Linked DNA regions of Homo sapiens: all the other regions are linked to region 2. The links come from fine-mapping of genetic effects on gene expression. A gene starts in region 2. Each other region holds a variant in brackets. All regions are shown on one strand. Distances are from middle to middle.

What was found. PIP is the estimated chance that this variant, and not a neighbour inherited with it, causes the effect.
Region 1: its variant is the best candidate, but not a certain one, in a credible set for the expression of ADCY9 in lung (TOPMed, PIP 0.63).
Region 3: its variant is the best candidate, but not a certain one, in a credible set for the expression of ADCY9 in whole blood (TOPMed, PIP 0.65).
Region 4: its variant is the best candidate, but not a certain one, in a credible set for the expression of ADCY9 in monocytes (BLUEPRINT, PIP 0.57).
Region 5: its variant is the best candidate, but not a certain one, in a credible set for the expression of ADCY9 in cerebellar hemisphere (GTEx, PIP 0.73).

Annotation. Positions count from the first base shown.
Region 1 is chr16:4,002,509-4,006,625 of GRCh38, reverse strand. The region is part of intron 3 of ADCY9 (adenylate cyclase 9); the gene reads left to right. Among named protein-coding and RNA genes, the nearest start is that of TRIDDENT, 54 kb to the right of the region's middle. The variant G/A (reference allele first, on the strand shown) is at 1,937.
Region 2 is chr16:4,114,099-4,118,215 of GRCh38, reverse strand. ADCY9 (adenylate cyclase 9) reads left to right here and starts at 1,774. Exons shown (of 11, transcript NM_001116.4): 1 at 1,774-2,526; 2 at 2,731-4,117. The coding sequence starts at 2,774. RefSeq lists a silencer at 1,567-1,636.
Region 3 is chr16:3,988,545-3,992,661 of GRCh38, reverse strand. It overlaps ADCY9 (adenylate cyclase 9), which reads left to right. Exons shown (of 11, transcript NM_001116.4): 5 at 299-516; 6 at 3,566-3,668. LOC124903633 (a long non-coding RNA gene) reads right to left here and starts at 532. Exons shown (of 2, transcript XR_007064956.1): 1 at 1-532. The variant C/T (reference allele first, on the strand shown) is at 2,471.
Region 4 is chr16:4,024,743-4,028,859 of GRCh38, reverse strand. The region is part of intron 2 of ADCY9 (adenylate cyclase 9); the gene reads left to right. Among named protein-coding and RNA genes, the nearest start is that of TRIDDENT, 76 kb to the right of the region's middle. RefSeq lists enhancers at 2,803-3,302, 3,303-3,804. The variant C/T (reference allele first, on the strand shown) is at 2,265.
Region 5 is chr16:4,140,253-4,144,369 of GRCh38, reverse strand. No RefSeq gene overlaps it. Among named protein-coding and RNA genes, the nearest start is that of ADCY9, 26 kb to the right of the region's middle. The variant T/C (reference allele first, on the strand shown) is at 1,784.

The sequences.
Region 1 (4,117 bases), 110 kb after region 2:
AAAACAGCTCTCCTATGCTGCTTTGTGTTCTCAGATAACACAGTGGGGTATGTGTGAGGATGGCGGCCAGTGGTTACAGCTTCACCCAATACGTCCCTGCCTCTCCACATTCATTCACAGGTTTGAAAGCCGCTATTGGTATTTACGAGGAACAGTCTTCATTATGTGGCAGTCAGCTGGGGTATGCAGATTACTTACTGGGTCAGAATACATAGTGCCTGTCGCCCAGTTACACGTAATGATTGCACTCGGGTTCTGTCAACTCCGCTCGTGGATCGCGGTCGTTGGGTGCTTTGTTAGTGTAATGCAGGGCTTCTCACCTTGGCACCGCTGGCATTTTGGACCAGGTAGTCATGTGTTGTGGGGCTGTCCTGTGCACTGTCAGATGGCTGGCAGCATCCCTAGCCGCCACCTGCCAGATGGCAGCATACCCACCCGTACCCTACTCCCCAGCTGTGCCAACCAAAAATGTCTCCAGACATGGCCCAGTGTCCCCTGGGGGTGCAGAGTCACCCCTGGGTGAAAACCACCGGGACAGTGGTGTTGGACCCTCTCTTCCCTGTACTCTTGGCACATGTGTAAAGCTCATGTATCTGAGATTCCCTGGATGCCTGCAAACTTTAGAGACAGCCGCCTTGCCTGGGCTGACGTTGTGCAGGAGTCAGAAAATGGAGCTCTGGGCTCCTAGACAGCGGACCCGGGCAGGGAGGGGCTGGCGTGGGGTGGAATCGGGAATGGTTTTGCTATTTGGGGAAGAATTGTTTCCTCCAGCCTGCAAACTGAGCTGTATTTAAGTCGTGAAAGACAGCCCCGAGCCAAAAATATATAATTCGTTGTGTTTGCCATTTTAGCTTCCACATATGTGTGTTTCTGTCCGTTAGGGGATGCGGTCGCAGAGTTCACCATATCACATGCTCACGGGTTTAGTGACCACGGTTTTAGCAATGGCGATTCTACACTACATTGCACTCTAGTCATATATATTTGTTTTGGTCGGAATGAGCAAAAACCATTTAGCGTATCTTCTTGGCATGTGGAGATTTTCCAAATATTGTTGAAAGTTTCTGAGAATCTTGTGATCTATCAAGTTGACAGAAGGCCGGGCATGGTGGCTCACGCCTGTAATCCTGGTGCTGTGGGCGGCCGAGGTGGGAGGGATGCCTGAGGCTAGGATTTCCAGACCAGCCTGGTCATCGTAGCAAGACATCATCTCTACAAAAAAATTTTAAAAATTAACTGGGCTTGGTGGCCTGTGCCTGCGGTCCCAGCTACTTGGGAGGCTGAGCCAAGAGGATCACTTGAGCCCAGGAATTTAGGCTGCATGAGCTATGATTTTGCCACTGCACTCCAGCTTAGGCCACAGAGTGAGACCTTGTCCTGTCTCCAAAAAAAGGGAGGAGGGTGCTCAGTGGTAAAGTAAATTCGGGAAGCTTGGGATATTCAACACAGAAAGGGTTTCTTTACTGCAGGACTTCTCGGAGCCTTCACTAGGCTAGTAGACAGTAGCTAGGCCTTCAGAGGAGGACGCGGTATATACAGCATTCTCAGGCCTCTTTGAGCACAATTGTTTTTTTTCAAGCTGCACCTTGCAGGGCTAATGTGGTCACACCTTTTGGGGGAATGCTCATGTAGTAAAAGGAGTTTCATGCCAAGGACCAATACATTAGAGAAAAGGTGTTCAGGAAACGTTCCCTGAAGGAGCATGCGTAGATTTTCACGTGTGTCCTGTTCCTGCTGCTGCTCACTTGAGATACTCATGGCTTCTCTTTCCCCTGAACTCCTGTCTGCATTCACCGTTCAGCTCCACCACGCCTTCCCGTGCCTCCGCAGCTGATAACGCTGTTCCCTCGTCTCCAAATTCTCAGTCCCTTCAGTCTGTCCCACTTGGCTGTAACATACACGATCTTAAATCTTTGTTTCTTATGCGTCTTCCTGG[G/A]AGCTCTTTGCATTCAGAGACTGAGTGTTAAATAACTTAAATATTTCCCAAGTGTCGAGCATGGTGCCTGGCATGTAGTAATTAACAGTTTCTTTTTGGCTTTTTAATTCTTTAATTAAACACATGGAGCGATGCAGCTCTGCAGAGCCAGGCGAAGGACTGAAGTCAGAAGCCCGAGCAGAACTGTGTAGAACCAGGGCAGCGCCCACGAAGGGTTTATTTCCTGCCCTTAGCATGTGTGTCCTCTGTGACCTTAAGTCATCTCCTAGGTCATAGCTGGAAAATTCTTATCTAATGTAACATAACCTGTGTACTGTAACGACCTACCAGGAAATGATAGTGATGTCAAAGGCCAGGGCTTTGGTCCTGAAGTCATAGCTCAAAGGGAACCCTTTCTACACCCAAGTGTTGGCTTCTTTTTTTTTTTTTTTTTTTTTTAAAGAGATGGGATCTCGCTCTGTTGCCCAGGCTAGAGTACCAGTGGTATGATCTTAGCTCACTGCAGCTCGAAACTCTCAGGCTCAAGTGATCCTCCCAAGTCAACCTGCTGAGTAGCTAGGACCACAGGCATGTGCCACTATGCCTAGCTAATTTTTAAATTTTTTTTTTTTTGCTATATTGCCCAGGATGGTTGCCAACTCCTGGGGTTATACCATCCTCCTGCCTTGGCCTCTTAAAATGCTGGGATTACAGTCATGAGCCACTGTGCCTGGCCTTGGGTTCTTGAAATGACCAGCAGTGAGAGGTCCTCATCCTAAGGGCCCTGACATTGCATAATGTGGGGGACAGATACTGCCCGAGTGAAGGAAGGAGAGGTCAAGAAGGAAACCAAGGAGTAAGCATTAGACATGAGGACGCCACTGTCAGCGTCGCGGAGGGGAGGCGGACCACGGCGGGCAGGGGCGCAACTTGAAGCAAGACCCTTCTCAAGCCTTGGCTTTGCGACTGTGAAGAAACTGCAGCCAGGTGCAGTGGCTCATGCCTGTAGTCCTAGCCACTCAGACAGCTGAGGCAGGAAGATCGCTTGAGCCCAGGAGTTAGAGGCTGCAGTGAGCTGTGATGATGCCACTGCACTCCAACCAGGGTGACAGAATGAGACACTGTCTCAAAAAAAAAAAAAAAAAAAGAAAAGAAAGAGCAAACACACACTTAATTCCTCTAAGTGAGAGTTTTCCTCTTCAGTGCGGTGGTGATAAGGAAGAGACCTCTCGGGATTGCTGGGAGATGAGCCGGAATGGTGCCTGTGGACGCCAGGGCTGAGAAGAAGCCTCGCTCACACTCGGCACGCACGCCTTCACTCCACGCAGAGCAGGGACAGTGACCACAGACGGAGCCATGGAGGACTGGGAGGGGCCGAGAGACGGTCCCAGCTTGCCTGCAGGAAGTCACTGACTCTCTGGGGAAGGTCCCATCTTCTCCACGGTTCCGATTCGAGGGAGATTCTCACAGTGATTGCGGCTGAGCATTGCTGTGGGTTGGATGCTCTCGGCCGTAACCAAGTCACTTGTATGACACGGGAGCATGTGTGCCTTGGCCTGTTGAATGTGACGTCAGCGCTCCAGCAGGCATTTGCTTTCCATTTTCTCATGAACCCTGTGGGTGATGAGTGGATCTAGATGCCATATATCAATAAAAACAGCTTTTCCAACATCTTCATGAAGAAAAAGAAAACCCAACTGGGCTCAGTGGCTCATGCCTGTAATCCCAACACTTTGGGAGGCCGAGGCAGAGAGATCACCTGCGGTCAGGAGTTCAAGGCCAGCCTGGCCAACATGGTGAAACCCCATCTCTACTAAAAATACAAAAATTAGCCAGGTGTGGTGGCATATGCCTGTAGTCCTAAGCCACTCAGGAGGCTGAGGCAGGAGGATCCCTTGAACCTAGTAGGTGAAGGTTGCAGTGAGCTGAGACCACGCCACTGCACTTCAGACTGGGCAATAGAGTGAGACTCCATCTCGAAAAGAAAAGAAAACCCAAAATTGAATTACTTGTATCACATTACTTCTGATCAGGGAACCATTTGAGCTGTGAAAGCATCTTAGTACATCTCTGAAAGGCCTCCCTGGAGCGCACCTGCGTGGCTGGTCTTCCTGAGTTTACCTTCATCTATTATTCAGAACCCCGGGCTGCTTGGCCACTGGGTGTTTCTACATGGACCAGTCAGTAATGAAGCTAGTGATG
Region 2 (4,117 bases):
AGGGACGATTCCTAGATTGTGACAGTTTCTCAGTCTTTGTCTTTCAAGACCCAAAGTGTCCAAGGACACTTTTGATGGGTACTGGTTAATCACTTTGTAGAACAGGTCTCAATCTGGGTTTGTCTGGTGTTTTCTTGCGATTGGATTGAGATTACACACTTCTGCAGGAATACCACCACAATATGTTGCTTTTAGTTTTTTCCTCCTTTATTGTGGTAAAATACACTCAACATAACATTTACCATTTAAACCACTTTATTTTATTTTATTATTATTTTTTGAGATGGAGTTTCACTCTTGTTGCCCAGGCTGGAGTGTAATGGTGCGAACTCAGCTCACCACAACCTCCGCCTCCCGGGTTCAAGCAATTCTCCTGCCTCGGCCTCTCGAGTAGCTGGGATTACAGGCATGTGCCACCACGTCCGGCTAATTTTTGTATTTTTAGTAGAGATGGGGTTTCTCCGTGTTGGTCAGGCTGGTCTCGAACTCCCGACCTCAGGTGATCCGCCCACCTCGGCCTCCCAAAGTGCTGGGATTACAGGCGTGAGCCACCGCTCCCGGCCTAAACCACTTTAAAGTGTATGATTCAAGGGCAGTATGTAGATTCATCCTGTTGGATCATTTCTAGACTTTTTCATCATCCTAAAACGAAACCCCAAGCTGCTTATCTTCCTCCCCTAGCACCTGGCAACCTCCAATCTGTGTCGCCTCTACGGATTTGCCAATTCGAGACATTTCATCTGGATGGAATCATACGCTATGTGGCCTTTTTTGTTTGGCTTCTTTCACTAGCATAACGTTTCCCGGGTTCCTCCACACTGCAGCATGCATCGGTGCTCCATTCCTTTTTGTAGCCGAATAATATTCCATTGCATGGACAGATCACATTTTACTTTTATTTTCTAATTCAACAGTGAGACCTGGTGTGGGCCCCGGCGCTGGGCCTGGGAGGCGAGGGAGGGGATGGAAGAGAGCCCCGTGACTGGCAGGAGGCACTGTGGAGTGTGGGGAGAAGGGGTCGGGATCTGCATGCTAGAGAGAATAGGATTTTATTTACACGTGGCAATGTTTATGGAGGCCAATGCACAACTGCCATTATGGGACGCGGACTCCTTTGAAAGTCTCATTTGTGTAAAAGGAAAAGCAGTAGTTCATGAGGAGGGGGAGAAGGGCTCAAGGACAGCAAGGTAAACTACCCCTGGGGCGGGGGAACGTGGTCGTCGGTGGGCCCAGCTTTGGAGGCTAGGCCCGTGAAGGTCGCCCCGTGAGCAGGTCCAGGGCAGGCCGAGTGCCCCGGGGCCCGCATTCATTGCTTACAGAGCAAGGGGAGCCTCCCGGGAGGGAAATCCAACGGTTGGAAACTTCGATTTATCCCAAAGGCGTGCCGAGTGGGAAGGCAACATTTTGATTTCCCAAACGTTGCGGCCAGCGGCTTCTTCCACGGCAGGCGCCTTCAGGTCTCTCCGCAGGGTCGGGACCCCGGGCGGCGCGCGGCCTCTGGGACGCCGAGGGAGGGCGGGCCCACAGCGCCCGGAGCGCGGACAGCGGCCACAGCCCGCCGCCTAGAAGCGGCGCCGCCCGGGGCGGGGGGCGGAGCCGAGCGCGCGCCCCGCCCCGCCCCGCCCCGCCCCGCAGCCCCAGCCCAGCGCGCGCACCAAGGCGGGGCGGCGCGCGGCCCGTGCGCGTGTCCGGGGCCAGGAGGCGGTGGCGGCGAGCGCGGGCCGCGCGTGCGCGCTGCGGCTGGGCGAGGGGCGGCGCGGGCGCGCGTCTGTCAGTGACAGCGGGCGGGGCAGGGGCCGGAGATGGTGGCGGCGGCAGCTCTTCCGACATGAGGCAGCGGCCGCGGGGGACACGGCGGCGGGCGCGGCGGCGGCCGCATCTCTAGCTCGGGGAGGCGGCCCCCGGCGTGGGCGCGGGCGGGCGGGCGTCCCGGCCGGCGTCGCGGGAGCCCGGCTCTGCGGCAGCGTCTGCACCGCCGCCCGGCGAGGGGCCCGCGTCCGTGGTTCCACGCGCTCGGTCCCGGGACAGCTGCGGCCGCGGCGGGAGCGGCGGCGCACTCGGGGGGAAGCAGGCCCCACTAGACGGGCCGCGCCGACGGGCTCCGCGCACTCGCAGCCCGGGGCGCCCCCACCCCCAGCGCCCGCCGCCGCGGGCAGGGCCGGCCCGGAGCGCGGGGGGCGGCCGGGGAGCGCGAGCCGGGGGCGCCCGCCGAAGCTCGCTGCTCCGGGTCGGGGTCCGGGCCCGGGGCCGGCCGCGCGCCGCCTTTGACGCATCGGAGCGCGGCTCCTGCAGGATGGAGGGCTCCGCGCCGCCAGCGGAGTTGTTTGTGCGCAGGCGGCTCGCGGGGCTGGGAGCGCTCAAGGTCTGAACTTCCCTCCGGAGCCGCAGCTGGAGGAGGCGAGCGCGCGAGGAGGAGAAGCCGCGCGGCGCGGAGGCCACCCTCGGGGCGAGAGGCGCGGAAGGCGAGCGAGCAAAGCGGTCCCGGAGCCACGGCGGCCACGCGGCGGGGACCCCCGGGCGTTCTAGGTCCGTCCCGAGCGGTTCTCGTGCGCCTCGAAGGTGGGGGCGGTGGGGGCGGTGGGAGCACCGCTGAGCCGGGAACCACAGGAACAGATGGTGCCTGTCCAGGTCGCGTGCTGGAGCCGCCCCTTAGGACAGGAGCAGGTCCCGGGCCTCTAGGCGTGCATGCCTAGGTGGGAGCGCCGCTAACTCTCCCCGTTTTGCTGGCAGGTACTGGTGACCCCGGCCGGGGCAGGCCCCGGGACTCGACAACATGGCTTCCCCACCCCACCAGCAGCTGCTGCATCACCACAGCACCGAGGTGAGCTGCGACTCCAGCGGGGACAGCAACAGCGTGCGCGTCAAGATCAACCCCAAGCAGCTGTCCTCCAACAGCCACCCCAAGCACTGCAAATACAGCATCTCCTCTAGCTGCAGCAGCTCTGGGGACTCCGGGGGCGTCCCCCGGCGAGTGGGCGGCGGAGGCCGGCTGCGCAGGCAGAAGAAGCTGCCCCAGCTGTTCGAGAGGGCCTCCAGCCGCTGGTGGGACCCCAAGTTCGACTCGGTGAACCTGGAGGAGGCCTGCCTGGAGCGCTGCTTCCCGCAGACCCAGCGCCGGTTCCGGTATGCGCTCTTCTACATCGGCTTCGCCTGCCTTCTGTGGAGCATCTATTTTGCGGTCCACATGAGATCCAGACTGATCGTCATGGTCGCCCCCGCGCTGTGCTTCCTCCTGGTGTGTGTGGGCTTCTTTCTGTTTACCTTCACCAAGCTGTACGCCCGGCATTACGCGTGGACCTCGCTGGCTCTCACCCTGCTGGTGTTCGCCCTGACCCTGGCTGCGCAGTTCCAGGTCTTGACGCCTGTCTCAGGACGCGGCGACAGCTCCAACCTTACGGCCACAGCCCGGCCCACAGATACTTGCTTATCTCAAGTGGGGAGCTTCTCCATGTGCATCGAAGTGCTCTTTTTGCTCTATACCGTCATGCACTTACCTTTGTACCTGAGTTTGTGTCTGGGGGTGGCCTACTCTGTCCTTTTCGAGACCTTTGGCTACCATTTCCGGGATGAAGCCTGCTTCCCCTCGCCCGGAGCCGGGGCCCTGCACTGGGAGCTGCTGAGCAGGGGGCTGCTCCACGGCTGCATCCACGCCATCGGGGTCCACCTGTTCGTCATGTCCCAGGTGAGGTCCAGGAGCACCTTCCTCAAGGTGGGGCAATCCATTATGCACGGGAAGGACCTGGAAGTGGAAAAAGCCCTCAAAGAGAGGATGATTCATTCCGTGATGCCAAGAATCATAGCCGATGACTTAATGAAGCAGGGAGATGAGGAGAGTGAGAATTCTGTCAAGAGGCATGCCACCTCGAGCCCCAAGAACAGGAAGAAAAAGTCTTCCATCCAAAAAGCTCCTATAGCCTTCCGCCCTTTTAAGATGCAGCAGATCGAAGAAGTCAGTATTTTATTTGCAGATATCGTGGGCTTCACCAAGATGAGTGCCAACAAGTCTGCCCACGCCCTGGTGGGTCTCCTGAACGATCTGTTCGGTCGCTTCGACCGCCTGTGTGAGGAGACCAAGTGTGAGAAAATCAGCACCCTGGGAGACTGTTACTACTGCGTG
Region 3 (4,117 bases), 130 kb after region 2:
TCCTCCCTTCCCCTCCACCTCCGCACCGACTCTTCCCATGTCTCAATGTCCTGGCAGCCTGAACACCCAGCGTTACCACTGGGCACTGTTGGGTAACAGGAAGGAGCAGACGGGCAGTCAGGGCTGGGATTGGAGCAGGTCTGTAGGCGCAGGGGGGTGGGGGTTCCTCGCAGGTCAGAAAGTCCCACGCCCAGTGCAGCAGCGCCCCGCAGCGGAGGTCGGGGTGGGACAGGCGTGTGTGCCCAGTGCCCGGTGCCACTTCACTTCCCGTGTCTGCGTCCTCTTTGTCTCGAGGCAGGCTTCTGGAGGACCTAATCCCAAAACTCAGAACGGGCTCCTCAGCCCTCCCCAAGAGGAGAAGCTCACCAACAGTCAGACTTCTCTGTGTGAGATCTTGCAGGAGAAGGGAAGGTGGGCAGGGGTGAGCCTGGACCAGTCGGCTCTCCTTCCGCTGAGGTTCAAGAACATCCGGGAGAAAACGGACGCCCACTTTGTGGACGTTATCAAAGAAGACAGGTACGACTGGGGCTGTCTGGGAAAAAGCAAAGGTTGCAGGCAGAAGCCTCTCTGCCTTTTTCTTTTCTTTTCTTTAAGACTGAGTCTCGCTCTGTCATCCAGGCTGCAGTGCAGTGGCGCGATCTTGGCTCACTGCAGCCTCTATCTCCCAGGTTCAAACGATGCTCCTGCCTCAGCCTCCCAAGTAGCTGGGGTTACTGGCACCCACCACCATGCCTGGCTAGGTTTTGTATTTTTAGTAGAGATGGAGTTTCATCATGTTGGCCAGGCTGGTCTCCATACTCCTGACCTCGGGTGATCCACCTACCCCACCCTCCCAGAGTGCTGGGATTATAGGCGTGAGCCACCACGCCTGGCTTTTTTTTTTTTTTTTTTTTTTTTTATAAGGACTAGGTCTTGCTGTGTTGCCCAGGCTGGAGTGCAGTGGCTCAATCTCGGCTCACTGCAACCTCCACCTCCCAGGTTCAAGTAATTCTCCTGCCTAGGTCTCTCAAGTAGCTGGGACTACAGGCATACACAACCATGCCCAGCTAATTTTTGTGTTTTTAGTAGAGATGGGTTTTTAACATGTTGGCCAGGCGGGTCTCGAACTCTTGGCCTCAGGTGATCTGCCCGCCTCGGCCTCCTAAAGTGCTGGGATTACAGGTGTGAGCCTGTGCCTGGCCTAATGGTAACATTTTTGAAAAATACAGGTCCAGTCCTTTTATCAAATATTCCTGAAGTTGGATTGGTTAGATTCAGGCTCTCCCTCTGGCCAGGCAGAGACTGCAGAAGGGATGCCGTGTCCTCCTCAGGGTGTCCTCTCCAGGGACACGCAGTGCCCGTCTGTTCCTCATTAGTGATACTAATTTTGATTAATTAGGCAAGGTGGTGCCGGGTTGTCTCATCTAGGGTTATTATATTCCTCTTATGACTAATAAGCAATCTGTGAGAAAATACTTGAAGATCTTGTACATATTTCATTCCCCATCAGAATTCCCTAGATTTAACATTCATTGATGATTCTTGCCTCTGTCTTCACTATAATGCCTCAAAGGGTGATTTTCAGCCAGGCGCTGTGGCTCACGCCTATAATCCCAACACTTTGGGAGGCCGAGGCAGGTAGATCACCTGAAGTCAGGGGTTCAAGACCAGCCTGGCCAACAAGGTGAAACCCCGTCTCTACTAAAAGTACAAAAATTAGCTGGGCGTGGTGGCGGGTGCCTGTCATCCCAGCTACTCAGGAGGCTGAGGTAGGAGAATCGCTTGAACCCAGGAGGCAGAGGCTGCAATGAGCTGAGATCGCAGCACTGCAACTCCAGCCTGGGCAACAGAGCGAGTCTCCATCTCAAAAAACAAATAAGAAATAAATGGAGCAGCACAGCTAATAGCAGTGTCGCTTCTGCCACTTGACTGCTAAAATGTGGCCTTGTGCACATCCTCTCTGCAGCTGCGTGGTTGCTCTTCCCTCAGTCCACACTCCCTGAGTCAGGGGAGGAGAGAGGGTCAGTGTCCTGGGACAGAATTATTTCTCTTCTGAGTCTGAGAATGTTGGAAGTTACTGGATACCTGTCACAGAAAGGAGAGTGTCCGCCGTGCTGCAAGGACAGGAAGGAACACACGTGATGAGCCGTACTTTGTGTGGGGGGCACATGAGGCACTTGACATATTTCACCTGATTTACTCTTTTTTTTTTTTTTTGAGACATAGTCTTGCTGTGTCACCCAGGCTGTAATGCAGTGGCGCCATCTTGGCTCATTGCAACCTCCATCTCCCAGGTTCAAGTGATTCTCCTGCCTTAGCCACCCGAGTAGCTGGGATTACAGGCACCTGCCACCAGGCCTGGCTAATTTTTGTATTTTTTGTAGAAACGGGGGTTCACCATGTTGGCCAGGCTGGTCCCGAGCTCCTGACCTCAGGTGATCCGCTTGCCTCGGCCTCCCAAAGGTCTGGGGATTACAAGGATGAGCCACCG[C/T]GCCCAGCCTCGTCTAATTTACTTCTGATAGTCACTGTATGAGGGAGAGAGGCTAACACAGCTATATTTGCTTTCTGAAATCATGTTAACGTTCCCTTAGTTTCTAGTAATTTTCTGCAGTATAGAAAGGATATTACTATTTGCTGGCAATTCATAAATGAATGAAAGAGTCATGGAAAGCGGGGTTGATTTCCCTGCTATTAAAATCACTGAGCTTTATCATTCTGCAGGTTTCACATGCAATCTGCATATGTGACAATAGCACCAAAATTACGCTAACTATAAACACAATTTTGTGATAACAACCTGTTAGCTTTTACGGTGGCAATTACTGTCAGTGCTCTGAATGACAGGACCGCCGGTTCTGAATTATGTTTTCGTTTGAAGCCTCCAAATCCATGTAAGTACTCTCAGCACAGTGATCTGCGTGTTCTTCACAAAAGATTGTTTCAAAGAACAGAAAAGCTGCCTTCATCTTCTCCTAATCCTAGACATTAGGAATGTGTTTTCAAAAACAAGCCTCAGCAGCTCACGCTGTCATCCCAGCACTTTGGGAGGCCGAGATGGGTGGATCTCTTGAGCCCAGGAGTTCGAGACCAGCCTGACCAACATGGTGAAACCCCGCGTCTGCTAAAAAATACAAAAATTAGCTGGGTGCGGTGGCAGGCGCCTGTAATCCCAGCTACTCAGGAGGCTGAGGCAGGAGAATTGCTTGAACCTGGGAGGCGGAGATTGCAGTGAGCCAAGATCGCTGCGCCATTGCACTCCAGCCTGGGCGACAGAGTGAGACCTTGCCTCAAAAAAAAAAAACCCCAAAAAACCAAGGTTCTGATGATGTGTGCTATAATCATGGTGGATGGTCATTCTTTAACGAAGGTGAAACACAAAATATGATTATGCTTTGAGGTGCGAAGGACTTTCCACAGATCTGTTTTAACAAGGGGCAGCTGAGTGGCGTCTGTTCCACAGGCGCTTTTAGACGCAGCTGTTGTAATATACCTAATGAGCAGCGTTTTGGTAGCTAATTATGATCTGAAAACATTGGCACAGTTATGGTGCTGGGTATTGATCGACTGCATTTGTTGTGTCTTCTAGCCTGATGAAAGATTACTTTTTTAAGCCGCCCATTAATCAGTTCAGCCTGAACTTCCTGGATCAGGAGCTGGAGCGATCCTACAGGACCAGCTATCAGGAAGAGGTGCGTTCATTTCTCCTTGCGCTTTTACTAAAGAATGTGTTTGTTGTTCTCACATGGTCATTCACTGTTAGTTTTGTGCTTTACCAAGGGATGGGAACACGAAGGCGAACATTGATTTCCCACACTCTGTAAACCCTAAGTGGCAACTGTACATGAAATGTCTCTTTGCAAAGGAGGAAAAAAACCCTTTCTTTAGTCCTTTGTCTTAAAGCGCAGCCTCGCCATTACTAGCCCCTTTCCTCTGCCGTGGCATCTCCAGGCTATCCCCAGCCTTGGAAGGGGCCCCCCCACCACAACCTGTCCTGAAAGGAAACCCCCAACCTGCCCTGGAAGGAAACCCCCCCACCTGCCTTGGAAGGGGCCCCCACACCTGCCCTGGTAAAGGAACCCCCCCCACCTGCCATGGAAGGGGTCCCCCACCTGCCCTGGAAAGGAACCCCTCCCCACCT
Region 4 (4,117 bases), 89 kb after region 2:
TGAGCCGAGATCGCGCCACTGCACTCTAGCTTGGGTGACAGAGCAAGACTCCATCTCAAAGAAAAAAAAAAGAAAAAAAGAAAATAGATAACGAATTGAGCACTTTTTATTAAAGACAGTTTTACTAAGGTATCATTTGCACACTATGAAGCTCAGCTGTGAAAAGTATACAATTTTATTTTTAGAAAATTTAGGGTATCATCTGGTTTTAGAACATTTCCATCATCCCATGAGGTCCATCATATCTGGTTTCAGGCAATACCTGCTTCCAGTCCCAAACCACAAATCTACTTTCTGTGTCTATAGATTTGCTTTTTCTAGACATTTCATATAATTGGAATCATGCACTATTGTAGTCTTTTGTAGCTGACTTCTCAATTAGCTTATTGTTTTTGAGGTTCTTCTGTATTGTAGCACAGATCAAGTATTTAGGTCCTTTTTCGTGAGTTAAATTCGGTGGTGTGGATATATCACAGTGTGTCCATCCATTCACCAGCTGCTGGACACGTGGATTATTCCCACGTCTTGGCTGTAATAAACAGAGCTGCTCTGAACATCGCTTGCAAGTCTTAGTTGTTTCCATTTCTCGTGAGTAGAGGCTTGGATTGGAATTGCAAGATTGTATGGTAACGTATAATTTTATTTTGCTAATTATCATTTGTGAACTGACTTTTTTCTCTTGCTATACGGTTCTAAGGATCATAACACATGTATAGGTTTTGTAGCCACCAGTACAATCAGGATACAGAACAGTTTAATCACCCCCCAAAAATCTTTCCCAAGGGTTGACCTTTTAATATGATTTGGCTGTGTCCCCACCCAAATCTCATCTTGAATTGTGACTCCCACAATTCCCACATGTTGTGGGAGGGACCCAGTGGGAGGTAATTGAATCGTGGGGGCAGGTCATTCCCATGCTGTTCTCGTGATAGTGAATAAGTCTCACGAGATCTGATGGGTTTTTTTTCTTTTTTTTTTTTTTGAAACGGAATTTTGCTCTTGTCACCCAGGCTGGAGTGCAATGGCATGATCTTGGCTCACCACAACCTCTGCCTCCTGGGTTCAAGCGATTCTCCTGCCTCAGCCTCCCAAGTAGCTGGGATTACAGGCATGGACCACCACACCCAGCTAATTTTTGTTTTACTAGTAGAGATGGGGTTTCACCATGTTGGCCAGGCTGGTCTCGAACTCTTGAGCTCAGGTGATATGCCCACCTCGGCCTCCCACAGTGCTGGGATTACAGGCGTGAGCCACCACGTCCAGTTGATCTGATGGTTTTATAAAGAGGAGTTCCCCTGCACACACTCTCTCTCTTCCCTGCCGTCATGGAAGACGTGACTTGCTCCTCCTTGCCCTCTGCCATGATTGTGAGGCCTCCCTAGCCATGGGGAACTGCAAGCCAGTTAAACCTTTCCTTCGTAATTACCCAGTCTCGGATAATTATAAAGTCTTTATGAACAGTGTGAAAACAGACTAATACACCCTTTATGGGTGTTACCAGTGGAGGGTCTTGACTACAAGTTGTCTGGGTTCTTAACCAGATTCTTGGCATTTTGAACAAAGAATTGGACAAAATGCACAAAGAAAGCAACGAGAAAACGAAGCAAGGGAAGCACAGATTTACTGAAATGAAAGTACACTCCACGGAGTGGGAGCAGGCTCGAGCAGGAGCAAGTGGCTGATTAGAGAATTTTCTGGAGCCTTAATACCCTGTAGAGGTTTACCATTGGTTACTTGGTTACACCCTATGTAAGTGAAGGAGTGGCCTGTGACCAGTCTGATTGGTTGCAGGAGGCGACCAATCAGAGGTTGAAGTGAAGTTGCAACGTTACACCTGAAGACCTGGCCTGGGACCAGTCTGGTTGGTTGCGGGAGGGAACCAATCAGAGGTACTTTCCATTTTTCATCTGCCACGAGGTGCAAAGGGAGTAGTAGCCTCTGATCCTTTTGTTACCTGGGTATGGTTTTCCTTTTGATTCAGTTCTAAAAAGTCAGGGTGAATCGGCCTTAAGTTCCCTGCCTCCAGGCCCCTGCCGACCCAGCAACAACTATCCATTCCCTGTAGTTTTGCCTTTGGGAGCCTGTCATTAAAATGGAACCACACAGCATGTACCCTTTGAAGACTGGTTTCTTCCACTTAGTCTAGAGCTATTGAGATTCGTCCTGGATGCTGCATGGGTCTCTAGTTCATTCCTTGTGATGCTGAGTAGTGCCCCATTGTGGGGAGGGACCACAGTGTGTTTATCCATTCATCCTGGGAAGGA[C/T]ATTAGGTTGGTTTCCAGGTTTTGGCAATTATGAATAGTGCCGCTACAAACATTTGCGTACAGCGTTTTTTGTAAACATAAGGTTTGATTTCTCTAGGGTAAATATCCATGATTGGGGTTTCTGGGTGTATGGTCATTGCAGGATTAACTTTTTTTTTTTTTTTTTTTTTGAGACGGAGTCTTGCTGTTGTTGGCTCAGGCTGGAGTGCAATGGCGTGATCTCAGCTCACTGCAATGTCCGCCTCCCGGGTTCAAGTAGTTCTCCTGTCTCAGCCTCCCGAGTAGCTGGGACTACAGGTGACGCCACCATGCCCAGCTAATTTTTGTATTTTTAGTAGAGACAGGGTTTCACCATGTTGCCTACGCTGGTCTCAGACTCCTGACCTCAGGTGATCCACCTGCCTTGACCTCCCAAAGTGCTGGGATTATAGGCGTGATCCACCGCGCCCAGCCTCTACTTTAGTTTCATAATGGGCTTTAATTTGTGAATTAACTTCTTGATGTATCTGCTCATCCATCCATTCATTCATTCATTTCTATATTCACCCAACAAATAGTTAAGTGCCTTACTTCTGTCTTTGCTATTTCTTTGCCTTTGGAGCACTGTTTTGAAAGAGCCAGCGCCCACTGTCAGCTGTCCAGCTGGTAGCACTGTCATCTGGAAGATTTTAGATACTTTCTCATGAGTGATTCTACACCAGCCTGAATCTCACACTACCTGACATCCTCTCAATCGTAGCCACACCCAAGGGTCCTACTTTGCTGTCCCCACTGCCACCAGACCAAACACACCCCCTTCCCTGAAAGTCTGGGAGTCGGTTTCTTCTTCACAATAGAAGTTGGCCTCTGCTGGTCATGCCCCAAACCTTCTGGAGCTGCGGGTTCTGCCTTCTCTGCAGCTGCCTTCCCGTGGGCTGCCCTGGTCAGTGCAGGACATGGCACAGGACCTCCGCCCTGCCACACCCCCGGGCCATTTCCTCGGCAGGCCTCGTGCCAGACTTCTCCAAAGGACTGACCGCGTGTGCCTTCTCCACCTTGCACACACTCGCACACCAACCTGCCAGCCTGGCCTGTGCTCTTCGCCGCCCAAACGCACCTCTCCCTGGTGTGGTCACTGACAGTCTTTGCGTGGCCAGTGGCCAAACCCAGGCTGGCTTTGCTAGTGGCCTCATCTTCTCTCTGCAGCGTTCACAGTGATCCACTTCTTTTTTTTTTTTTTTGGAGACAGAGTCTTGCTCTGTTGCCCTGGCTGGAGTGCAGTGGCACCAATGTCCGCTCACTGCAACCTCCACCTCCCGGGTTCAAGGCAATTCTCCTGCCTCAGCCTCCTGAGTAGCTGGGATTACAGTCATACACCACCATGCCTGGCTAATTTTTGTATATATATATTTTTTAATAGAGACGGGGGTTTCACCATGTTAGCCAGGCTGGTCTCAAACTCCTGAGCTCAGGTGATCCACCCGCCTCGGCCTCTCAAAGTGCTGGGATTACAGGCTTTAGCCATCACACCCAGCCCCCCTCCCTACCCCTTTGTCCCTCCTCAGAGCCCTGCTGGCCCACTTCCCTGGCCGTTCAAAACATTGCAGCTCCAAGGCTGCTTCCCAGGCCTCCCCACCTGCTGTCTTCTCCCTGGTGATATTATGGACAGTGGATCTCTGGCCCTGAGCTCCCTTCTGATTTCATGGTATGGCCACCTCCTTGTCCCTATCGCTTGAGCGTGTCACCAGCATCTTCAGCTTGGGAGGTCCAGAACTGAGCTCCTGATTTTGCCCCCTAAACTTTTACTTCTTCTGGTCTCACTCATCCGTCCACGTACTGAAGGCAGAACCCAGGAACCCAGGAAGTGTCCTTGT
Region 5 (4,117 bases), 26 kb before region 2:
GAAGATAGATGGTGGTGATGGTTGCACAACAATGTGAATATACTTTTTCTTTTTTTTTTTTTTTGATATGGAGTCTCTCTCTGTCACCCAGGCTGGAGCGCAGTGGTGCGATCTCGGGTCACTGCGACCTCTGCCTCCCAGGTTCAAGTGATTCTCCTGCCTCAGCCTCCGGAGTAGCTGGGATTACAGGCGAGTGCCACCACACCTGGCTAATTTTTGTATTTTAGTAGAGATGGGGTTTCACCATGTTGGCCAGGCTGGTCTCTAACTCCTGGCCTCAAGAGATCCACCAGCTTCGGCCTACCAAAGTGCTGGATTACAGGCGTGAGCCACCACGCGCGGCCAACAATGTGAATATACTTAATGTCACTGAATTGCACATTTTAAAAATGGTTACAATGGTAAATTTTAGGTTACATATATTTTATCAAAATCGTGTGTTTGTAATCTAGTTGGTGACCTAAATTTTTGCAATTATGATATAATCAATGATTTTTCAAAGGTGATACTGTCCACCAGTGTTTGTGGGGTGCAAAAACATTGCTGAGTTTGTTCATTTATTCAACCAGCATGCCTTGGCTGCCTGCTCTGTCGGAGCCTCCTGAGCTAAACTTGAAGATATAAAGTCAATGATCCCACCACTTGGGAGGCCGTGGAGGAACACTTGAGGTCAGGAGTTTGAGACCAGCCTGGGCAACATAGCAAGATCCCGTCTGTAAAAAAAAAAAAATAGAATCACTCACATGCCTACTCTTTCAGAACTAGGTTCTGAGGGTGAGGATCAAGAGCCAGCCCATGAACCTCTGACTCGGTGAGTGAAGCTTCCGGCAGAACATCCGGCCTGGCATCCGAGGCGGCACTTATCTGAAGCCTCTTATATGAGGAGGATCTCAAAAGAAGCAGGGAGAGAGCCTTGGGAGAGGAACCTGGTGCCAGCCCTGGATACAGAGATGGAGTCGTGACGGTGTCGGGCCAGCCTGAGAAATAGCAGGAGACCTGACATGGCCTAGGGTGGGGCTCTAGGTGCTTGATGAAAGTGAGATGGAAGGAGTGCACCGTGGTGACTGCGGAGTCCTCAAAGCCACTGCGACCCTCACCTTTACCTCCTGTCAGCTGGTGAGCTTGGTAAGGTTGAAGAAAAAAATCTCTTGGGGCCGAGCACGGTGGCTTATGCCTGTAATCCCAACACTTTGGGAGGCCAAGGCAGGTGGATTGCTTGGGGCCAGGAGTTTGAGTCCAGCCTGGGCAACATAGCAAGACCCCATCTCTACAAAACAAAATAAAAAAAAAATAGCCAGGCATGGTGGCATATGCCTGTGGTCCCAGGTACTTGGGAAGCTGAGACAGGAGGATCTCTTGAGTCCAGTAGTTTGAGGCTGCAGTGAGCCGTGATCACACCACTGCACACCAGCCTGGGCAACAGAGCAAGACACTGTCCACCCACCAAAAAAATGAACAAACGAAACTCTGTAAATCTGTTTTTCTCATCAATAAAACAGATAATACTTCTCACATTGATAGGATTAAATCAGAAAATCTGTGTAAAGTGTCTAGCTGAGATACATCTTTTTTTTTTTTTCGAGACGGAGTCTCACTCTGTTGCCCAGGCTGGAGTGCGGTGGTGCAATCTTGGCTCACTGTAACCTCTGCCTCCTAGGTTCAAGCGATTGTCATGCCTCGGCCTCCCGAGTAATAGCTGAGCTATGTCTATATTTACATCTCTACCTACAGATGATATCTTGTCTATATCTGTATCTACACACACACAAGACAGGGCAGGGTG[T/C]GAGAACTCTGAAGGTCTGGAAACAAGCCTTGATTATTTCTAGGTTTCGCTTCTCTGTTTTGCAGCCAGGGCATTTGGCTCTGGGAAGTGGTGAGAGCATCCTGGGTGTGTCTGGCGAGCTGGGTGTCTCTAGCCCAGCATCTTTGTCAGCGTGTAGCTGGGGGTGTGGAACCAAGGGCAGAGGGGATGGGTGGGGCTTGGAGGTGGCAGCAAGCATGAGTGTTGACGTCGTGGAAGCCTAAGGCTGGTTCTTTCATGGGTTACCATATTGGGGCCCAGGTGAGAAGTCTAATCCTTTGGGTGTCACAGTTTGACTTGTTGCCACAGAAACCACACCATCTCAACATGATCCATCCAACTGCTTCCTGGAAAAGCAGTTTGGAAGGCAATTGGATCATTTTATTATTATTTCTTTTAAATAAATATATTTTTAAAAAACAGAGATGGGGTTTTGCCATGTTGTCCAGGCTGGTCTCGAACTCCTGGGCTCAAGCAATCTGCCTGCTTCAGCCTCCCAAGGTGCTGGGATTACAGGCGTGAGCCACCGCGCCTGGCCAATTGGATCATTTTCATCAATGAAAGATGGTGCATTCTCGCACCTGCTTGGGTATCATGTATGAACGACGTAAATGTGATAGAGCCCAAAGAAATGATTTGCTCAGGAACGGACCGTTGAGGGAGGAAAATGGAGACAACTCACGAACCTCTATTAGCCATTTTTGGATGGAAAAAAATTGCATCTTCATTTTTATGAATTCCAAATAGGGACATTTTTATGTCCTTCCATTATGAGTATGGCAACAGACCACAGTATTATTCATGGGGCCATAGCTTCATTGAAGTGGATAGCGCGGATACTTAATCAAAGAGGATTGACGCAGAAAATCGGTGAAAAGATCTAGGCTATTTTCTCTACTTTGGCTTCCGCAAGATATGGGGACACAAATCGCATTTGTTCCATTGCTTTATGAGCCAGGTTGACTTAACTACTGAGGGAAGACGCCTGGCGTGCTGCCCACGAGGCGGCAGGAGCAAACTCTTCAGGTTATCATTGGTGGAAATTTCCACAGATGCGTCTTCAGGCTGAGAGGTCAATTTATTGGGCTCATGTGGAAGGCTGGAAAGGCTTGATTAACTAGTCAGTCTCATTCACTTTTTCTTTCTTTTTTTTTTTTTTTTGGCTGTGGTGGAGTCTCACTCTGCCGCCCAGGCTGGAGTGCAGTGGTGAGATCTCAGCTCACTGCAACCTCCGACTCCCAGATTCAAGCGATTCTCCCACCTCAGCCTCCCAAGTAGCTGGGACTACAGGTGTGCGCCACAACTCCTGACTAATTTTTGTATTTTTTAGTAGAGATGGGGTTTTGCCATGTTGGCCAGGCTGGTCTCCAATTCCTGACCTCAGGTGATCCGCCCACCTCAGCCTCCCAAAGTGCTGGGATTACAGGCGTGAGCCCTGTGCCTGGCCTGTTATATTCATTTACTTTAAAGGAAAGTATTTGCCAAAGGACCTTTTCTCGTGAGGAATGTTTTGACTGATCACCTTCTTTGTATTAATGTTAATACTGTCATTTTCCTCACCTATGAGATGTCTGAGTATTCTCAAATTATTCAGCCTTCCCATGATTTTAACATCTTTCATCCAATCTTCAAATTTTACTTTCACTTCCACAATCTTGTCCAGCTCAGTAGGTAAAAGCCGCATGCCTGGGCATGTTCCCTAGCTGTGCTCTCAGCATAAATTAGATAGCGTGTCAGTTTGGAGTTCATACAGAGGCAAGTAACAGAAAGCCCTGTTTTAGAGGCTGATGATAATAAAGAATTCCTTTTTCCTGGGTAGGAAAAAGTTCACGGTAGGCACTTTGGTGCTGGTATCTGTATTGGTTCATTCTCACATTGCTATAAAGAAATGCCTGAGGCTGGGTAATTTATAAAGAAAAGAGATTGAATTTGTTCACAGTTCCATAGACTGTACAGGAAGCGTGGTGCTGCCATCTGCTCAGCTTCCAGGGAGGCCTTAGGAAACCTCCAATCATGGTGGAAGGTGAAGCGAAGCAGGCTTGTCCTACATGGTTGAAGCAGAAGCAGGAGAAAGAGAGAGGGGAGGTGCTGTCTCTCTTGTTCCTGCTCCACCGATCACTGTCACTATCATAACAACAGCACCAAAGCGAGATGGTGTTAAACTATGAGAAACCGCCCCATGATCTAATCACCTCCCACCAGACCCTACCTCCAGCACTGGGGATTACATTTCAACATGAGATTTGGGTGGGGACACAGATCCAAACCATATCAGTATTAATGACTATTGATGCCATCAAGAACCCAGGCTCTTCT